Regions from separate parts of the Homo sapiens genome. Here region 1 is linked to region 2. Evidence: fine-mapped expression QTL. Tissue or cell type: neural progenitor cells. Region 2 holds a variant in brackets; the other region holds the start of a gene. All regions are shown on one strand. Distances are between the middles of the regions.

Region 1 (10,208 bases), 190 kb after region 2:
AACATGGTGAAAATATTTTCACCATGGAAATCAGCAAATGCTATGAATCGGGATTTAAAATAAAATATTCTTTGAATTGGAGAAACATCTCTCTGCTCATTCAACTGTGACTAGAGCAGTTAGAGTATTTTATAGGCTATGACAACATTGGAATAAATGTCTGATACTTTATTTTGAAATATAAAGTACATCTAGAGCTCTTGATTCAAATGGAATGATTTTCTTAAAATATTTAACCCTTCGGGCCGGGTGCAGTGGCTCACGCTGGTAATCACAGCACTTTGGGAGGCCGAGGCGGGTGGATCACCTGAGGTCAGGAGTTCAAGACCAACATGGTGAAACCCCGTCTCTACTAAAATCAAAAATTAGCTGGGCGTGGTGGTGGGCGCCTGTAATCCCAGCTACTTGGGAAGCTGAGGCAGAAGAATCACTAGAACCTGGGAGGCGGAGGTTGCTGTGAGCTGAGATTGCGCCATTGCACTCCAGCCAGGGCGACAGAGCGAGACTTCATCTCACACACACACGCACACACACAAAGATTAACTCTTCATTCAAATGTCTTTGGTATAAGTCTGACTTTAATTTAAAATGTAAATTTATACAATGGCATTTTAGTGCTTCCTCTGACATTTCCTATAAGTTGTAGAGGTTGTATAAAACACTAAAAGTAGCTTTTTGATTTATGTATTCAAATGTAAAATAACATGTATGTTATTAAAATTACATTCAGATGAAAATAGTGTTCTTTTCTATTATACACAATAATTTCTAAGACTATGGATATTAGGTTTGCAATGTTGCAGCAGTTTTCAAAGCCAGAGATTCCACTCTTTGAAGAATTCTGGTAAATCCTTGATATTGATGTGGTTCAGGACATGCTGCCCCAAAATATGACACCTTTGACTTAGTGAATATTTTAAGCCAAAGGAATTCAAGAAATGGCAGGTGCAGGAAGGACTTTCTGATCTTCCTATGAAGCAGGTCATAAGACCTTCATGTGAGAGGTGCCCCTCCTATCTTCCAAGGAGATTGTCCTTATTTCCAAAGCTGCAGTGATTCCCAGATAAATATGAACAAACAGGCCTTGCTAAGGTTCCCCCAGTTTACAACTCTTAGTTCATACCCATTTTTATCCTATCATATTTTTCTATGTTTCTTTATTCTTCAGCAAACATACTTTGAAAACAATCAGGTTTAACTACTTCTTCGGGTCTTCAATTCCTTATGAAGTCTCCTGTGTCACGAAAAACTTATACTAAACGAATTTGTATGCATTTCTCTTGATCTGTCTTTTGTTACAGAGATCCAGCCAGGAACCAACAAAGGTAGGAAGAAAAGACAGTGTTCCTCTCCTGCAATATTTTGTATTGCAATGTACCTATGTATACTTTTATCTTGTAGTAATATACTGACAAAGTTTATTGCCTGAGTGCCAGAAAATGCAAGGTCACAAATAATTTTTGATACTCTTAAATTTTATTACCGTGCAGATGCCACAGAGAGACACTTTAGGGATGGAAGGAAAGACAGTTTACCTCCAGGGAGATCCCCTTTTTCCTCCTGGGGCTGCAGCCGGGCTGCCACTGTTGCTTCTGCTGCCACCAGTCTGGGCCCAGGTCTGGGCACAGCCCCAGGCTGTCCGACACCTGCCCTGTCAGGTGTTGGGCCAGCTTCTTAGAGCACATGTTGCCTGCTGTACCACAGGCCCATGGGTTGGGGGGTAATTTAAATTTTTTTGTTCTTCTTTCTACTTTTCTGTATTTTCTTCAAGAGCAGTAATATTTAAACAACTAGACAACAAAAATTTATGTTTTAATGTAAACTATAGTATCATTTCTTTTGTAAACGATATTATCACCTTTGTAATATTGCATTTGGCCATTTATATAGGTTATATTTGAATAAAGGACATCATTAGGCTGAAAAAAAGCACAGGGAGCAGTGTTAAAATAAAAAGATTATTCAACAATACTTGTTAAAGCATGGTAGAATTTATTCAGGACCATCATGATAGTTATAGGGACCACTGCAATGCGGTCCTTCAGTGGGGAAGACAGACTGGACTCAACTTCAAATACAGCAAGAACCCCCTACCCTTGATATCTGATCACTCTCTTGCCAAACTGACTTAGTAGTGTTCTTTGCTAAAACTGGATTTTACAAGGAAGTACAATGATGGTGCTAGGAAGTTTCAGAAGACTAACTAAAGTTTGGTCAAGCAAAGAATTGTTGTTAGCAGTAATTTGAAATTGGTTTTATTACAATAGCTTGCCCTTGATTTATTTTTAGTTGTGTCCTAATCTCTTTCAGAAATATGGTCCATCTTAATTTGCATGAGTGACTTAATCTATATGAGCCTCAGAGAGGTACTTCTACAATAATTCATGTTTTATTATAAATTGCTTTTGAGTGGACACAAGGCGTTTCAGGAGGTAGTATTGCGCTAATTATCAATCCTTTAAAAATAATTAGAGGCTAAGTAACAAGAATTAAATCTAACTTCCTTTTGGGCCCCTTTATTAGTCAAGATGGATGTTTTCCACTTTAAGAGAGAAGCAAATGGCTTGATGGGCTGGCATATCAATGTAAACCTCTCTCTGACATCAGTACTTCTATACTTTTCCTACCACACAGAGCAGTATTGAATCAGGAGGTGATGAGGCTGCAAAGAAACTAATTATTATTATTATTATTATTATTATTATTATTATTTTTAGAGATAGAGTCTCACACGGTCCCCAGGCTGGAGTGCAGTGGCGTGATCTTGGCTCACTGCAACCTCCACCTCCCAGGTTCAAGCCATTCTCCTGCCTTGGCCTCCCAAGTAGCTGGGACTACAGGCGCGTGCCACCACGCCTAGGTTATTTTTGTATTTTTAGTAGAGACAGGGTTTCACCATGTTGACCAGGATGGTCTCGATCTCCTGACCTGATCTGCCCACCTAGGCCTCCCAAAGTGCTGGGATTACAGGGGTGGGCCACCATGCCAGGCCCGAAGGAACTAATTTTTAAAAATATTCACTGATCAGTTGTCCTTGAGAAGACTTGAAGCATTTCACTATTTTAAGTCAATCTCAAATTTGTCATCTGAGCAAAATAGAATAAAGATGCCACTGAACCTAGAGGAAAGATTAGGTAACCAGGAATCCTACTTTCAGGTTTCCTTTATCTCTTCTTTTTATGATCTCTTTGGAGTCTCAGTCCCAAGTCCTGCACTACTCTCCATGGTCATGGAGCACTCTGATACTGTTTCCATCTAAAAAAGAAAACAACTCCGAGAAGAAGGGGGTAGCCAGAGCTCTTCCTTGGAAAAGGATGACTTAAGGATAATTTGAGGAAGGAAAAAAGACTTTCTTTCTATAAAAATCTACTATTAGAGGCCACTCTTTTCTTTTCTTTTTTGAGGCAGGGTCTCACTCTGTAGCCCAGGCCAGTCTTGAACTCCTGGCCTCAAGCAACGCTCCTGCCTTGGCCTCCCAAAGTGCTGGGATTGCGGGTGTGAGCCATTGCACCTGGCCTAGAGTCACTCTTTTGGGTTAAGACGTTCTCTCTAGAAAGCCTCCGTTAATTATAGGTAAGGATTGATACATTGACCTATTACCTCAACTATGATTTCAGCAAAGATAATTTCACTATCCCAATCAGCTGTTAACTTAGAAAGCTAGACTTTTATGGTGTTAACCACACACACATACAGACGCACACACACGAGCAGCTTTGGGTCTTCCAATCCTATACTTAGCACATTGTAGCACAAAGAATCTCCTTAATATATTTTTATTAAGTTAATAGGTGAATAGGAAAGGCTGTAGTGTGTTATACGGGGAAATAGACTCAGGTGTGTCTAGATATTAAAGTCGGTATATTAAGGTTACCAAGCGTGAAAGATTTTGATGGAAGAATGAAAACATCCATGTCCAGGACTTCCAGTTTCATTTCTCAGTCACTAATTTCAAGTCACCAAATAAACAAAGTGAAAATGGGTGAAACGTACTTTGAGTTACAATAAGTTTATCTTAATTCATTGACTTTTCAACTGCTCAGATGTCTTAAAATTTTTTAAAAAGTAAGTTGTTATAGTAAAGAGCCACACAAATACTCATAGCAGAGGAACAATTTCTGGATTATGTCGGTGAGCTTTTTAAGGGTTTGGGGAGGATGAGAATAAAAGGGTGACTTTTTATTTTCAGTTTTTCTATCTGGATGTGTCAAATTCCTGATAACTTCTAACACTCAGCAATGGAAATTTAGAAGGTGCCTGAAAGAACAAATAGAATTTTCAGACCTGGAGAAATTCTAGTAATCATCACTCTGGGACATATTATTAAAATTAGTATTTTAAAAAAGAAAACAATCTTTCAGAAAGACAGGAAGTTTAGGAGCCAAAGCCAGAGGCCCTAATACAAATCGCCCCCACCTCCCCATCCCCCCATCCCCACCTTCTTCCCCGCCCTGTTCAAACACGCCCACAGCCCAGGAAATAATGAGACCCAAGTGATCCAGCTAGATAGAAAAAGTAGTTTGCTTGGCATCTCCCAAATTATCTTGAGCAAACAATAAAATAAGAAATGTTTCAGAAGACAATTCGGCTCCCAGGCCCAAACCAAAACTCGAACCTGGTACTTTTTGTAAGTGCGGGCCAAGAAAGGGGCTGTAAAGTTAAAGAGCCGGTGGCGCCTCTGAACACACCCGGGCAGGGCGAGCAGGATGTCCTTGTCCAGGGAGACCCCTTCTCCTGGCTTTGAGGAAGGTGCTCCCTATCCCCGCGGGTTCCTCCGCCAAGCGGGACGCCGCGCCGGGCGGGTGAGAGAAAGCCCGGGCAGGAGAGCACAGAGCCGGCGACTGGACGCGAGCGCGGGGCGGGTGGAGAGCGTCTCTCCGGGCGCCGCTGCTGTTGTCCCGGGTGCTGAAAAGCCGGGAACTTCCCGGGAAGCAGCGGCACTTTTCTCCCTGGAAGGTGGGTGTGGGGGTTCCAGACTGCGCACCTGCTAAACCCTCCTGGGTCCCCCGGGAGGGGTCCGCCAGATGTGCCCCTTCCCAGCCCCATTCGGGGGAGAAGGATGGGGGCGGGGGCGTGGGGGTGAGCACAGCCGGACACCGCAAGTGGGAACCTGGGGTGTCCTTCCCCGCAGCTCCCGGGCAGCCGCGCGCCGCGAACCCCGGTCCACCTGCAAGCAAGGCGGGCCGGGGGCAGAGGGCGCCGGGCTGTGCGGGGGAACCGGCCCGCGTCCCGGGATTGGGGGGCGGTGGAAGAGAGAGCGAGCGGGCATGCGCAGTGGGGCGGAGGAGGTGGCGATGGCCGGGGGAGGCGGGGGGACTGCTGTTTATTTGCAGCTGGGCCAACTCCGCGGCGCAGGCGGCGGCGGAGCGCGGGGAGCTCGCGGCGGGTCCAGCTGCCGCAGCACCATGCCCGAGCCCCCCTCCGGGCAGACGCCGCGCGCCGCCGGGGCCCCGGTAGGGGAGGATGCCAGACGCCCGGGAGAGGCCAGGGCAGCAGCGGCGGCGGCGGCGCGATGGTGGTGACCACCTCTGCCCGAGGCGGCGGCGGGGACCGCACACCCTCCCGGCGGCGGGGCTGCGGGCTAGCGCCGGCCGGGGCCGCGGCGCTGCTGGCCGGGGCAAGCTGCCTGTGCTACGGCCGCTCCCTGCAGGGCGAGTTCGTGCACGACGACGTGTGGGCGATCGTGAACAACCCCGACGTGCGGCCCGGCGCCCCGCTCCGCTGGGGCATCTTCACCAACGACTTCTGGGGCAAGGGCATGGCCGAGAACACCAGCCACAAGTCCTACCGGCCGCTCTGCGTCCTCACCTTCAAGTGAGTCCCTCACCTCGCGCTAGCCGCCGCTGCCTCCTCTACCCTCCGCCCGTCCCTCGGACCGGGAGAAGTTGCGGGACTGACTTGGGGGCATTTCATTTTTGCCGCCCTTTCCCTCCACGCCTCCCTCCTCTCCAGGATGTGCATGGCACTTTGCTCCGGGATCCACTGCCCGGCTAATCTGGGCTCTCGGGGCGGTTCGGGAGGCGCCGGCTGGGGAGTTGGGATCGAGTTTCTCAACTGTCTGCCCTCTCAGCGGGCTTCTCTCTCGAGGCAGGGCTGGGAGCGGGCTGGTGAAACCGCCTCCGCACCCCTTCGCCTGCCGGATCGTGACCAAGTGGGACTAGCGCGGACCCAGAGGGTTCCGGAGGGGTGGCGGTGGTGGCGATGCTTCCAAGTAGAGAATTTCTCGGAGGCTGTTGGGCAGCTTTGCAGATGAGAAGTGTATCAGCCCCTTAAGGGTTTCGTTCAGATGAGACGAGGCGGGAGCCTTGAGCTGACAGGGCTGCGTGGGTTCAGGAGAGGGAGCAGAAAACTCTCCCGAGCCCCCCAGCCCCCGCCTTGCACCCTTGGCTGCTCCCAGAGGCTCTCCAATCTGCCAGACTTCTCTGGATCTAGACTTTAGAAGGTGCAGAGAGAGGTAACGCAGAGCCTAGGCTTCTCCAGGGACCCTGGGGCCCCAGCCGAAATAGTTTTTCTTTTACAACCTCGGAGTCATGATTCAGCGTTTCTGGTGTGAATAAGCGTAAAGGGAACCGAGAATATGCCAGGTTTTTGAGGGGTGGAGTATTTTCTTTAATTTGAAAAGAAGCCTAGCTTCTGAGGAAAGAAGAGAAGTGCTCATTTAAGGGAAATGCTATCTTACACAATCAGGAGCTTGACTCAACCCTTTATAATGTGGCTCAGCATTGAAGTTCATTTTAACGCGCCGGTCAAAACTGTTGAAATAATATTGGTGCGCTATTATCGGCGTTTTAAGCCTTTTTGCAACGGGTGTAATAGGAACCCGTGTTTATGGTAATGATTATTTGAGACTGGGTTGGCAGCTTGAAAAGCCTGCTCTGGATGAGAGGCTGAGGCCTCTTGACAGGTGTCTCTGATGACTCAGAAAAGGAAACCATAGCAATCGGCAACAATTCATGGGCTTTTGACTTACGTCTTCCACTGAAAGTTTAATGTTTTTAAGGAGAGTGAGAAAATTACATATTTGACTTTGAAGAGAATGTGTTATAGACATTTGTTCTCTTAGAAAGTTGTTCTCGTTTTCTACTGAAAGATAACCTTGGCTAACCTCGCTATTCAGTTTCCCAGATGTTTCTTAAAATCTCCTTGGGACAAATATAAATGTTTCACTTCTAGATTGACCTGCTTTTTCATTATTACAGTCAGGGTTGTTGGTTAATTTAGGATGTGCAAGTTCACAGCATGAGATGTGCTTGCTATCTTTGTAACAGCCATGGAGACCATCCTGGTCACAGGTCTGAGTATTTTTCAATTAAAAAGGGCAGAGTCAAATGCCTGTGCCTACTTGCTGGAGAGTAGGGAAGGGTGTTTTCACTTCTTGACTTTCTAGAAGGTTTTCTTCTTTTTTCTCTGTCTTTTCTCTTTTTTTCTTTTTTGGGATGGGATCTCACTCTGTCCTCCAGCCTGGAGTGCAGTGGCATGATTATTGCTCACTGTAGCCTGAAACTTCTGGGCATAAGCAATTCTCCTGCCTCAGCCTCCCAAGTAGCTGGAACTACTACTGGCACATGCCGTGCATCCAGATATATTTTAAAATTTTTTTTGTAGATATGGGGTCTTCCTATGTTGTCTAGGCTGGTGTTGAACTCCTGGGCTAAGCGATCTTTAAGCCTCAGCCTCCCAGTGTGCTGGACTTGTGGGCATGAGCTACTGTACCTCACCTAAAATGTTTTATTTTTCTTCATAATGGAGACAGCAGGCACATAAGGGAGGGGTGGAGGGAGTAGACAAAGAAGTAAGACCATTGATTAAGAGGAAAATTGGCTAGGAGTTGACAGAACAAGGGCAAAGGAGAGTTGGGGGATTCAGGAGGAAGAGAGCTGAGGGACTCTTGTGGTAATCATTGATTGTAACAAGCAGCTTGGTGTCTAAGAGGCATGGCTTGCTGTATATTATATGCTACTGCCTATGAAAGATACACTCTTTTTTTGAGAAGATTGAGTTGCAAATCTAGAAGAGAAACACAGCACTAATTGGAAAGAGATAACTGCCTCTTCAGAAAGAGAATGTTAAGTAGTCTTTCTGTCCTCACATGCATTGATTTAAATAAGACTGGACAGTTTTCTTTATATTCACCTGAGGTATAGCATGAAGCTGGAGGATATCAGTGATTTTAGAACCATACAACTCTACAGGATGGTACAAGGAAGGACAGAAAGCCGTATTTATTAACTATTCGCTATGAACCAAGCATTGGCCTAGATACTTCACATAGATTACGTCTTTATGATTTTTATTTTAGATAGTGAAAACACAATTGAAGGGGCCCTTTAAATATGTGCAAACCATTTTAACTGTATCTTAAATTATGCTTGTTTGAGCAAAAACTTTGAGATTTCAAACCCGTTTTAAAAACTTTTTTAATGTAATTGTGCATTCCCATGCAGTTTTAAGTAATAATAGAGAGATTCCTTCTACTCTATCCATTTCCCCCAATGGTAACATCCTGTATTATTATGGTATAATATTACAACCAGGAAATTGATATTGATGCAATCTACAGCATTTAGTCAGATTTCACCCATTTTATATGTACTTCTATTTTTTTTATTTTACTAAGTGTGTATTTAGTTTTATGCAGCTTTATCATATGTGTAGATTTCAGAGAGTACCTCCACAGTCAAGATACGGAACAATTCCATCCCAAGGATCCTCAGTACTTCTTTATTGCAATCATGGACACCTAATCTATAACAACTGCCTAATCCATAATCCCCTCACCCAAATCCATAACAACCATGAATCTGTTCTCCATTATCATTTTGCCATTTTAATACTGTTGTATAAATGGAATCACATAGTATGTAACCTGTTGAGATTGGCTTCTTGCACTCAGCATGTCTCTGGATCTTCATTCAGGCTGTTGCATGTATCCATAGTTTGTTCCTTTTTATTGCTGAGTTGTATTCCATTGTATGGATATACCACAGTTTGTATAACCATTCACCTGTTGGGGACATCTAGGTTGTTTCCAACTTTTGGCTGGGATAAAGCTGCTATAAAAATTCACTTACAGGTTTTTATGTAAACATAGATTTTTATTTCTCTGTTCTAAATGCCCAGGAGTCCAATTGCTGGGCCATATGGTGGCTGCATGTTCATATGCTTTATATGAAGCTGCCATACTGTTTTCCAGATGTTCCTAGCCGCAGTGTCTGAGTAATCCAGTTTCTGTGCATTTCTGCCAGCACTTTGTATTGTTGCTGTTTTTTACTGTAGCCATTTTGATAGGTATGTAGTGATATCACACCTATATATGTACCTCATTAATTTACCATTCCCTAATGGGTGAAGCTATTGAACATCTGATATTAAACCAAAGAGTTTGGTAAATGTGCCTTTGTGTCTTTTGTCCATTTTTAAGTGTTTTTTTTAAATGTTGAGTATTGAAGTTCTTTATATATTCTAGATACATGTACTTTGTCAAGTATGTGATTGGTAAATATTTTCTCCCACTCTGTAGCTTGTCTTTTTGTCCTCCTCACAGGACCTTTCTCAGTGCAATACTCCAAACATATTTTTTATTAAAATGTAAGTTGATTTTTGATTCATTGAATGTATCTTACGCATACTGAGAGCTAGAAATTTCCTTAAGAATAAATGTAATTTATAGATGCATAATACTTTTTGCTATAAAGGTGGTTGCTTGTATACTAATAAATAATAAAAGTGCTTGCTTAGGTAGTAAAGATACTAATTATGTATTTTTTCAAGTAAGAAATGAACTAAAATTTGAAATGAGGAAATGGGTTGCAGACCATCTACTTCTACCAGTTTTGAGGGGATGGGACAGTGGAATATGAAAGCAGCTTACCAAGATGTGGTGGCTTTGCACTATGTCACTTTAGCTAAGTTGGGACTATGTTTCTTGGAATTGCCTTTGCAAGATGATCTGGGTTAGGGCTGACCATAAGAAAAATTTCTGCAAGATTTGGAAGGTGAAAGTGAAGTGGCTAAGATCACATTCAGAATGTTGGCATAGGTTTTGTTGCTGCCAGGCCTCTTGCAGTTTGTCACAGAAATGTTGGTGAACATGCTGTTGGTTTGCAGCAGCACCCAGGCCCTCAGCTCCTCCAGTGCTCTCCAGATCTCGTCTTTCAGCTACTTGGAATCATGGTGCAGGTGTGTATGCAGCTCTGCAGGGAAGAGTG
Region 2 (10,208 bases):
CATGTCGTCTGCAAACAGGGACAATTTGACTTCCTCTTTTCCTAATTGAATACCCTTTGTTTCCTTCTCCTGCCTGATTGCCCTGGCCAGAACTTCCAACACCATGTTGAATAGGAGTGGTGAGAGAGGGCATCCCTGTCTTGTGCCAGTTTTCAAAGGGAATGCTTCCAGTTTTTGCCCATTCAGTATGATATTGGCTGTGGGTTTGTCATAGATAGCTCTTATTATTTTGAGATACGTCCCATCAATACCTAATTTATTGAGAGTTTTTAGCATGAAGGGCTGTTGAATTTTGTCCAAGGCCTTTTCTGCATCTATTGAGATAATCATGTGGTTTGTTTATATGCTGGATTACATTTATTGATTTGCGTATATTGAACCAGCCTTGCATCCCAGGGATGAAGCCCAATTGATCATGGTGGATAAGCTTCTTGATGTGCTGCTGGATTCGGTTTGCCAGTATTTTATCGAGGATTTTTGCATTGATGTTGATCGGGGTATTGGTCTAAAATTCTCTTTTTTTGTTGTATCTCTCTCAGGCTTTGGTATCCGGATAGTGCTGCCCTCATAAAATGAGTTAGGGAGGATTCCCTCTTTTTCTATTGATTGGAATAGTTTCAGAAGGAATGGTACCAGTTCTTCCTTGTACCTCTGGTAGAATTTGGCTGTGAATCCATCTGTTCCTGGACTCTTTTTGGTTGGTAAGCTATTGATTATTGCCACAATTTCAGAGCCTGTTATTGGTCTATTCAAAGATTCAAATTCTTCGTGGTTTAGTCTTGGGAGGGTGTATGTGTCGAGGAATTTATCCATTTCTTCTAGATTTTCTAGTTTATTTGCGTAGAGGTGTTTGTAGTATTCTCTGATGGTAGTTTGTATTTCGTGGGATCGGTGGTGATATCCCCTTTATCATTTTTTATTGCATCTATTTGATTCTTCTCTTTTTTTCTTTATTAGTCTTGCTAGTAGTCTATCAATTTTGTTGATCCTTTCAAAAAACCAGCTCCTGGATTCATTAATTTTTTGAAGGGTTTTTTGTGTCTCTATTTCCTTCAGTTCTGCTCTGATTTTAGTTATTTCTTGCCTTCTGCTAGCTTTTGAATGTGTTTGCTCTTGCTTTTCTAGTTCTTTTAATTGTGATGTTAGGGTGTCAATTTTGGATCTTTCCTGCTTTCTCTTGTGGGCATTTAGTGCTATAAATTTCCCTCTACACACTGCTTTGAATGTGTCCCAGAGATTCTGGTATGTTGTGTCTTTGTTCTCATTGGTTTCAAAGAACCTCTTTATTTCTGCCTCCATTTCGTTATGTACTCAGTAGTCATTCAGGAGCAGGTTGTTCAGTTTCCATGTAGTTGAGCAGTTTTGAGTGAGTTTCTTAATCCTGAGTTCTAGTTTGATTGCACTGTGGTCTGAGAGACAGTTTGTTATAATTTCTGTTCTTTTACATTTGCTGAGGAGAGCTTTACTTCCAACTATGTGGTCAATTTTGGAATAGGTGTGGTGTGGTGCTGAAAAAAATGTACATTCTGTTGAGTTGGGGTGGAGAGTTCTGTAGATGTCTATTAGGTCCGCTTGGTGCAGAGCTGAGTTCAATTCCTAGGTATCCTTGTTAACTTTCTGTCTCATTGATCTGTCTAACCTTGACAGTGGGGTGTGTGAACTCCCATTCACAATTGCTTCAAAGAGAATAAAATACCTAGGAATCCAACTTACAAGGGATGTGAAGGACCTCTTCAAGGAGAACTACAAACCACTGCTCAATGAAATAAAAGAGGATACAAACAAATGGAAGAACATTCCATGCTCATGGGTACGAAGAATCAATATCATGAAAATGGCCATACTGCCCAAGGTAATTTATAGATTCAATGCCATCCCCATCAAGCTACCAATGACTTTCTTCACAGAATTGGAAAAAACTACTTTAAAGTTCCTATGGAACTGAAAAAGAGCCCGCATCGCCAAGTCAATCCTAAGCCAAAAGAACAAAGCTGGAGGCATCACACTACCTGACTTCAAACTGTACTACAATGCTACAGTAATCAGAACAGCATGGTACTGGTACCAAAGCAGAGATATAGACCAATGGAATAGAACAGAGCCCTCAGAAATAATACCTCACATCTACAACCATCTGATCTTTGACAAACCTGACAAAAACAAAAATGGGGAAAGGATTCCCTATTTAATAAATGGTGCTGGGAAAACTGGCTAGCCATATTTAGAAAGCTGAAACTGGTCACTATTTTTCATTTAAAAGAGCAGAGAAGTACAATTTAAAAATAGAATTTCATTCAATAATTCTCCTACCCACTGGTACTTAGTTAACCCCTCAGCTATCAGGCCAATTCAGTTATTTATCAAAATTCATTCCCTGGAGGGAAACAGACAGCAATGGTCTAAGTGTAAGTTGTCTTGGAAAATAAACAGGACAGAGTCCTTCTAGGTCATTCCTAGAAGTCATCTGTATTAACTCATTGTGTGAGGTCAGGTTATTTAGTGGACCGACCTCTCATTTGAGAATGTGTCACACTTTCCTAAATCACCTAAGAATTTTCTTGGATCTGTCTATTATGGACCAAGAAGGAGTACAATTATAGCAGAAAGTGACTATCTGAATTATTAATAATGATTAAGAGGCAGGCCATTAAGATTACCTACTTTTATCAAAGGGAGATTTATTGACTTGATAATTCAAATGTTATGGCGGGAACAAGGTTCAGTTTAAGATCACAGACTAGTCATATTTTCCCTTTGATTTTTTTCAATATGAAATAGTAAATAAATATCTTATTTTAAGCATAGTTAACTTTGAATAAATTAATGTGTAAGAATGGCAATCAGACAAATCATGGTGTGTACACTCAGAAAGGAAATTGCAAACAGGAGTAAGAAAGTTGCTGAAATAATAAAAAATGACCAAACTCTTTGGGTTTTGAAAAGATTATTTGAAAATCTAAAGAAAATGACTGAAATCAAATATATAATTAAACTTTAATTATATAGGTTTCATCAATAAGTAATCTTTGTTTATTGTCTGGATTATAGTCCCACTGTATTGTTTTCTGACCTCAGCCTGTGGACTTTTGGTTGACATTAAGAATAATAGAGCTGAATGAATATGTATTTTTATTTACAATTTTCTATAAGATGTAGAAAGCCAAGTTTTATACACTTTCTTAATGTCATCTATTCTGAACTGGCTTTCCATAATGCCATATTTTTCAGGGATGTAATATTCATGTTGTATAATAGGAAACAAATCTCCTACTGAAGAAATTGTATTAGTCCATTCTCACACTGCTGTAAAGAACTACCTGAGACTGGGTCATTTATAATGAAAAGAGGTTTAACTGGCTCATAATTCCGTAAGCTGTACTGTATAGGAAGCATAGCTGGGGAGACGTCAGGAAATTTTCAATCGTGGCAGAAGGCGAAGGGGAAGCCGGCATGTCCTACATGGCTAGAGCAGGAGGAAGAGGCCGAGGGGATTGGGGGTGCCACAGGCTTTTACAACAACCAGATCTCCTGAGAACTCACTCATTATCATGAGAATAGGAAGGAGGAAGTCTGTTCTCATAATTAAGTCACCTCCCACCAGGCCCCTCTTCCAACACTGGGGATGACAATTGGACATGAGATTTGGGCAGGGACAGAAATTCATACTATGTCAGAAATGAGATTTCAGTAGCCCAGTTTCTTGAAATGTGAGTTGATTTCACTTCTGTCTCTGAGAACTGGCCCCTAAAAGCTGAATACATTGGCCAATGAAATGAAGTTAAGTAATTATCCCAGTGGAAGATTTAATTAGTAGCTATGTATTTATCATCCCCTTAGTGGGCTATTATCCCTGAAAGTTTAACTGAATCATCTTTTTGAAAAACTCATAGATTTACTAGAGACACTATCCTCCTTATACTTTCTTTAAAGAACACTAGTTCTTAGTAATATGAGTAAAATAATAATTTATGTATTTTTAAATGATATATAGTTTACTTAATTTCTTCCAGCTATGGTTTCCTCACCTGTAAGGTAGGGACAATAATAATTTTAAAGAATAGTGAAGACTAAATAATTGAATGAATGGAAAAACACTTCATAAACTGTAAAATATAATGCAAATATAAAGTATCAGCCCTATTGTCATAGTTTATTTGGACTTATTTTGTTGTTGTGTTTCCTTCCTTTCGTTTTTCCCTTAGGCACCTCCTCCCTCCCAAGAATTATGTCCTATTCATACGTCACAGAGACTGTGGCTAGGATAGAAGGGCATAACAGTGCCCTTGCCTGCTAATTTTACTAGTTGTGATTAAGGAAATGGTACTAGGTACAAATAAAGAGCACCTTAAATTACCGGAGTTGTGTATATTAAGGCTTTAAGTTTTCTAATGCTTTAATTTAAAAGATTAAAATTCTCAGTGGATTAGAGATTATTTCTATGACTCCTAACTTATTCCTTTTCCTTCAGCCACTCAATTATGTTTCTATATTTATTGTGGCTTTTAAATGAAAATAAACTTTGTTCCACTGCAAGACTCCTTAAAACATCAAACACAGTATCTTATAATTAATTTTAAAATCTTAATTCGCAGGAAAAAAATGGAAAAGCAATAGTAAGAGAGTCACAATAAACAATAAAAATGTTGATTAGGACGGTGAAAAGTAAACTACACAGTGGCTGTTCACAATGGTCTTCAAAAGAGAGCTTAAAAATCACTATTCTGTTTCAGTTCAGTGAAGCATTCGTTGAGTTATATAGATGAAACACTTTGTTTTTTTTCCTAAAGATGGGATAGGGGATAATTACCAGCAGGATTTTGTGTGACATACCTGTGGCAGTCAAAATCAAGATGAACTTAAATTTATTCTGACAGACATCTCTTGAATTATTCATCGTTTTTATAGAAAATACCCCCTTGACACTTCTGAAGACCTCAAGCCCCGATCTAATTCAAAGGCTTAGTTAAAGGATAAATACACAAAGTGTGTTTTGTGTCTGCATGGGTCTACAGTACATTTAAAAGGTGGCTGTTTTAAAAATATATATATTTTATAGAAAATCAAAATTAAAAGTAATTTTTTAACCTGATTATTGAAGAATTCTTCAAATGAAGTTAGGCTTTGTTTCATAACTAATGCAATGCCACCACGATGATCACATAAAACCCAAAGGAATTTTCACCTAATCAGATACCTAGTGAGAGAGGCTATTGCTTCCAGACCCTTACCATTACCAGGAATAAAAAATATCTGCACATTATTCAGATGGAGGGCTGTGCATGGTAATAGAATCAGGAAGTTGCTATAAATACTAGCAGTCCCACTTTTAATAGGTCAGGGCTAATTGTTAAAGCAAAGTTCCTGCTTTAACTATGGCCATGCTGGAGTCCTCTCCTTGTAAGCCTCATGATTCTGCAGCTGCAGTCAGTCTTTGAGCTCAGGATATATGAAAGGCCT[TC/C]TGTGCTCTTCTATGATGAAAGAGGAAAGAGTCCCAGGGATGCTTTCTATTACTGTGCATCTGAAGGAAACAACCAGCATAGGGATTAACTCACCGCGTTTCCTGGATACTCCTTGAATCTGTCAGTGGCCAGACAGCTGAATTTAGCATACATCAATCAATCAATCAATGAATCAATCAATCAAACTTTGAATTACAGTCCTGGCTGCACTATAGTCATAACTATGGCCAAGAAGCACTAAAGGAATTCTTAAACACAAACTGTCCAGGAGAGTTTCTAGGGCAAGGCCAGAGTGGGTTAGCACAAGAGTATTTTGTGCTGTAGCCATAGCTATGATATCCACTAGCTGCCTCTCAGAGATGGCACCTGAAATTTGCTATCCCTTAGTTACTTCCTACAGTGTGGTTGGAGGGATAAAAAGGCCCTTGAGCTTTCTTTGCCAATTAAAGATGTCCAGAGAGAAGCAGTGAGCCTTTCTAAGGCTCAATGTGTTTTCTTTGTCTGGCTGCCTCTCCTATGTCTCCCAAAACAGCTTCCTAAGCTCTTGTGTAGTCCTTTTAAGCTCATGCAGCTTGTCTTCTTTGGCTTTTTAATAGAAACTCCTTCTGCCCCCAAATTAAATTCATCTTAGATGGGGCAGAAGTGTGTGTCAGGGGAAGTATGGCATTTAATTGTCTAGGAACTTGACAAGGACTGATCTTGTTTTTATGACTTAGGCATTATCTTAGATTTCTGCGTTAAAAGCTAGCCTCATAAGCTTATTTCTAGTATGGTGGGTGACAGAGATGGGAGGAACTTACTAAATGCCAGCTACATCTACTCTAAATGCAGCAAAAACAGCTAAGTCATATAATGGTGCTGATTTGGCTTCTTTTTAGTTTTGAGTTAAGGAAGTAAGCAAATTCCTTTGCTTCCTCAACTCCTGCAAACATGGTGTACCGGTGGACGTACAGCCAGTCCTCCTTTGCAGCTGCTTCTAAACAATGGGAATGTTGACCTATTGGATTTTTTTTTTACCCACATAATTGTGCATCGCTTAAGTGTTTTTAAAAGTGTTTTAGTAGGATTTCAGTGCTCTAAAAATATATCATTCCAGGCAGAGTCCAGTGGCAGAAAGGAGAAGTGAAATAAAACAGAAAAGAAAATCAAAAGTTAAGAATCGTTTTGGCAGACATTGTGTACATTTTTCTCTCTGAGTAATGTAGTTTCTTTACCCAAGGAACTTCTGCCATCTTGTACAAATAGCACTACATGAGTAGTGGTCAGCAGCCCCACCAGGCCCAGAACTCAGCCCCTGAGGCAAGAAGGATATTCTAATGCAAGAACTTGAAATGTATTTAATGCTGGTAGCTTTTGCCTAGTAGTTCCAAATCATACATGATTGGATGGTTACTTATTTTAATACTTTATGTCAACAATTTTCTTGTTGAGATGAAACTCACCATTGTTTGATTTTGATAGTGGAATATGGAGAGACAAAAGAAAAAGCAAATGTGCCTACCTTAAAGCTTGATGTACAATCAAATGGCTTAACATTTTCACTTTTTTTTTTGTTCCCACCATACAAGTGTCCTGAACAATGGGCACAACAGAGAAAGAGATATTGTCAGTGTCCTTCAGCTAGGTACATTTTACATCTTGGAAGTATCTTTAAGGAAATGGAATGTCAAGGGCGCTGTAATTTCAACAGTTTTAATTATGGTGTCACAGTCTCTTCTTCAGGCAGAATAATTAGAGTTTTCAAGCTTTGGGGACTGTAATATCCATCTGAATTAATTCTTTCTCTTCTCAGTCAACATTTCTTAACATGGCTTCCTGAAAATACTACTTCTGAGGGTTGTCCATGGCTGTTCTTAAGTGAGTGAGGTGGAAATGCAAAGTCCATTGGTCAGAGAAATTTAGAAAATGGCGGGTTAAACAAAGATAAATAGATTTCTTTATTGTAGTAGCCATGTGAAACTTTTTAAGAAGAAAAGATGAATACAGCATTGCCCAAGGAATGCTTTTGGGGGAAAAGTATTTCTCAAAACAAGTGTTCCAAGGGATATAATTTGGGAGAATCGTTCAGGATTATAATTCAGTTATCATACTCAGCTTATGTTATGAGTAACAAACAAGTGAGCTGAGATCATAAGTGATAACTTTGCCTTTAGGGATAGAGTTTTGGTTTTTGCTTACTGCCATGTTTATGAGTTGATAATGCAGTTACGTCATTGCAGAATGGGTTAGATTGGAGTCTTGAATCTTATATATTTATCAATATAAACCTTAGGTGTGTGGGTGATGTTGTTAGTGATAATAGTAACAGTAATGATATTTAACTTGTAACCTAGTCAGAATGAAAACAACTACTACAAAAAGACAGAAACATTAACAAAATGGTGGGAATAAAAAAAGTAATGGATTATTTATATATTTATATATGCCTCATGAGAAACTGAGAATTCACACAAATAATGAAATTATTTCTGTATTTACAGACTTCTAGGGGAAAAGAAATATGCTTCTTCATTTTTGCATATCCTCCAGTACTTGCCCAGGGATCCCTGGTATTTAATAGATAATTGGTGATTGCTCTTAACTGCATTCAAATAATCCATTCAATAGATGAGTTATTTAACAGATAATTGATGATTTAATTATCAATTGTATTTAATAGATACATCGATGATTGTTTTTAACTGAATTGAAATAACTCATTAGAAATTCAGTTATCACATACCATGCTAACTGTAATATCCTGCTTTATCTACACAGTAGAAAACTAAAAGTAACAATAAAGTGTTCTCTAAAATGTATTTTGAGTTTAAAGCTTCAGAAACAAAAATAAAAAACTTTAAAGGGTTCTCTTTTAAAATTTGAAATTTAATAAACTAATATTGGTAAGGCAATAAAATTGGTTTTTATTTTTAGCCTATAAATGCTTTTATCCCATCAGAATGAATAATTATTCTAAAAATTGTCATTATTCTAAGCAGATATAATCTTATCCCAGTCCATTCCTATAAGGTCATGGTTGCCTAGCTCAGTATGCATTGGCGTTAATTATTGTGTTTACCTTCAATTTTGTCTTTCATTAATGTTTTGTCAAGGGCTCTCACCAGATCCCGCGTAAGCTTAATGGGTTGTTTGTGCTCTTCCAGCCTCTCCATAATGGAATTGACAAAATTGCCTTGGTTATGGCAGTATAAATGCATCTTCTCCACCTGCTGGATTACTCCCTGAATCTTGGGATCATATTCACAGAGAGGCATGTGCTTTTTACTAATGTGTTTGTGTGTGTGTCTGTGTGTGTGTGCGTGTTCACGTTTTTCTTTAATCCTGTTAAGTGGAAACATTGCTGTTGGCTAATTATGAAATAATTTTACTATCGTGCATGACAATAACATTTATCATGGATGTGAAGTAAGTTTTAAGTTCAAAAATGGCCTCAGCTCTCCTGATGCAATACAAAATGAAGGGGATGCAACACACACTGAAAAATCCCATTACTATACTATTAAAGAAGATTTAAGCAATACAAATCAGTAATTTTTTTAAAAAACTGAAGTTGAAAACTCGGTACTATTTGATAGAAATTGAGAAGGATGAACACTGAGGATGGATGAAGAAATGCATACTGAGACAGAAATGCCATTTCAGCACCAGAAACCTCCTTCATAGAATAAAAGGAAATCAGCAGATGAAAAACATGAGTGCAGCAATTTTAGCATTTATTTAGATTGTAAGATTATATGGTGTTTATTATTTTACTCTACTGCTTTTAGGTTTTATGGCCATTTATTTCTTCATCTGTAGTTCTTAGGGCTTATTTTTTAAAGTTATAGCTATTTCTCAATATGTTTTACTTAAAGCCCAAGTAACAAGAAGGCTGGAAAATTTTCTTCTCATGCCTATTTGGGTCCCCGGATCACATAATATAATGAAAAAATTGATTTCAAGTACCATGTAAATGTGCATTTTTTTTCTTGGCTAATTCTTTTCAAAAAAAGCCAGGTTTAATGGCCTGGCTACAAAGTGCCATCTCATTCTTAGGAAAGAGCCCCTGCAGTGATGATATAACACTGTGCTGAGTGTGGCTGTACAGGAGAAGGATGGCAGAGATTCTTTTAAATTTCATTTTGCCAAGACCTAAGCAAGAGATCGATACTATGCTCTTTCTTTTTCAATTAACACAAATTGCCAGTAACTGTTTTCTTGTATTAATACACGTGAGTCCAACTTAGAAAAATATCATATTTTGGATGGTGAAAATGTCTCCTTTTGACAATAAAAAGCAGTTCAAACAAAACATAGGAATTTTTTTTTTTCTAATTCTATTTTGGTAAAGTCAATTTGATGACTATCCCTGCTACATAGCACTTTGTTGTTTTCAAAGTGTGGATTGGTCTGTATGTCATGAGGATCTTGCCAGTCTGTGAGAATGATCCTGTAAGAGAAACCGAGGCCCTGAGAGAATAAACGACTGGTATAAACTCACACAACTAATTGGTGACAGGACCTGGATGGTCACCTGGTTTACAGTCTGGTTGGTTTTGTTGTTTGTTTGGTTTGGTTTTGCTTTTTAAGTAGAATGGGTACATTTCAGTGTAGAATTTAATCCAGTTGATTAGAATGGTTATAATAGTTAAGATGGATGTAATACTTTCTGCTTTCCAGAGTTATTTCATGTCTTTTACCTTATTTAAGAGTTAGGGTAACTTCAGTCATAGCAATTATTATCATCCTTCTCCCCATTTTACAGTTTCA

Alleles and levels. Alleles are on the strand shown, and positions count from the first base shown. SD is a standard deviation of normalised expression in the study named.
In carriers of allele TC in region 2, the expression in neural progenitor cells of the gene that starts at base 5,322 in region 1 tends to be higher than with C alone (large effect, 1.1 SD a copy in Aygun 2021).

Evidence for each region. PIP is the estimated chance that this variant, and not a neighbour inherited with it, causes the effect.
Region 1: it holds the start of TMTC1, and the variant in region 2 is fine-mapped to the expression of TMTC1 in neural progenitor cells (Aygun 2021, PIP 0.95).

The regions. Positions count from the first base shown.
Region 1 is chr12:29,779,056-29,789,263 of GRCh38, reverse strand. It overlaps TMTC1 (transmembrane O-mannosyltransferase targeting cadherins 1), which reads left to right and starts at 5,322. Exons shown (of 18, transcript NM_001193451.2): 1 at 5,322-5,814. The coding sequence starts at 5,513.
Region 2 is chr12:29,966,900-29,977,107 of GRCh38, reverse strand. The region is part of intron 3 of LOC105369715 (a long non-coding RNA gene); the gene reads left to right. Among named protein-coding and RNA genes, the nearest start is that of TMTC1, 190 kb to the right of the region's middle. The variant TC/C (reference allele first, on the strand shown) is at 5,458.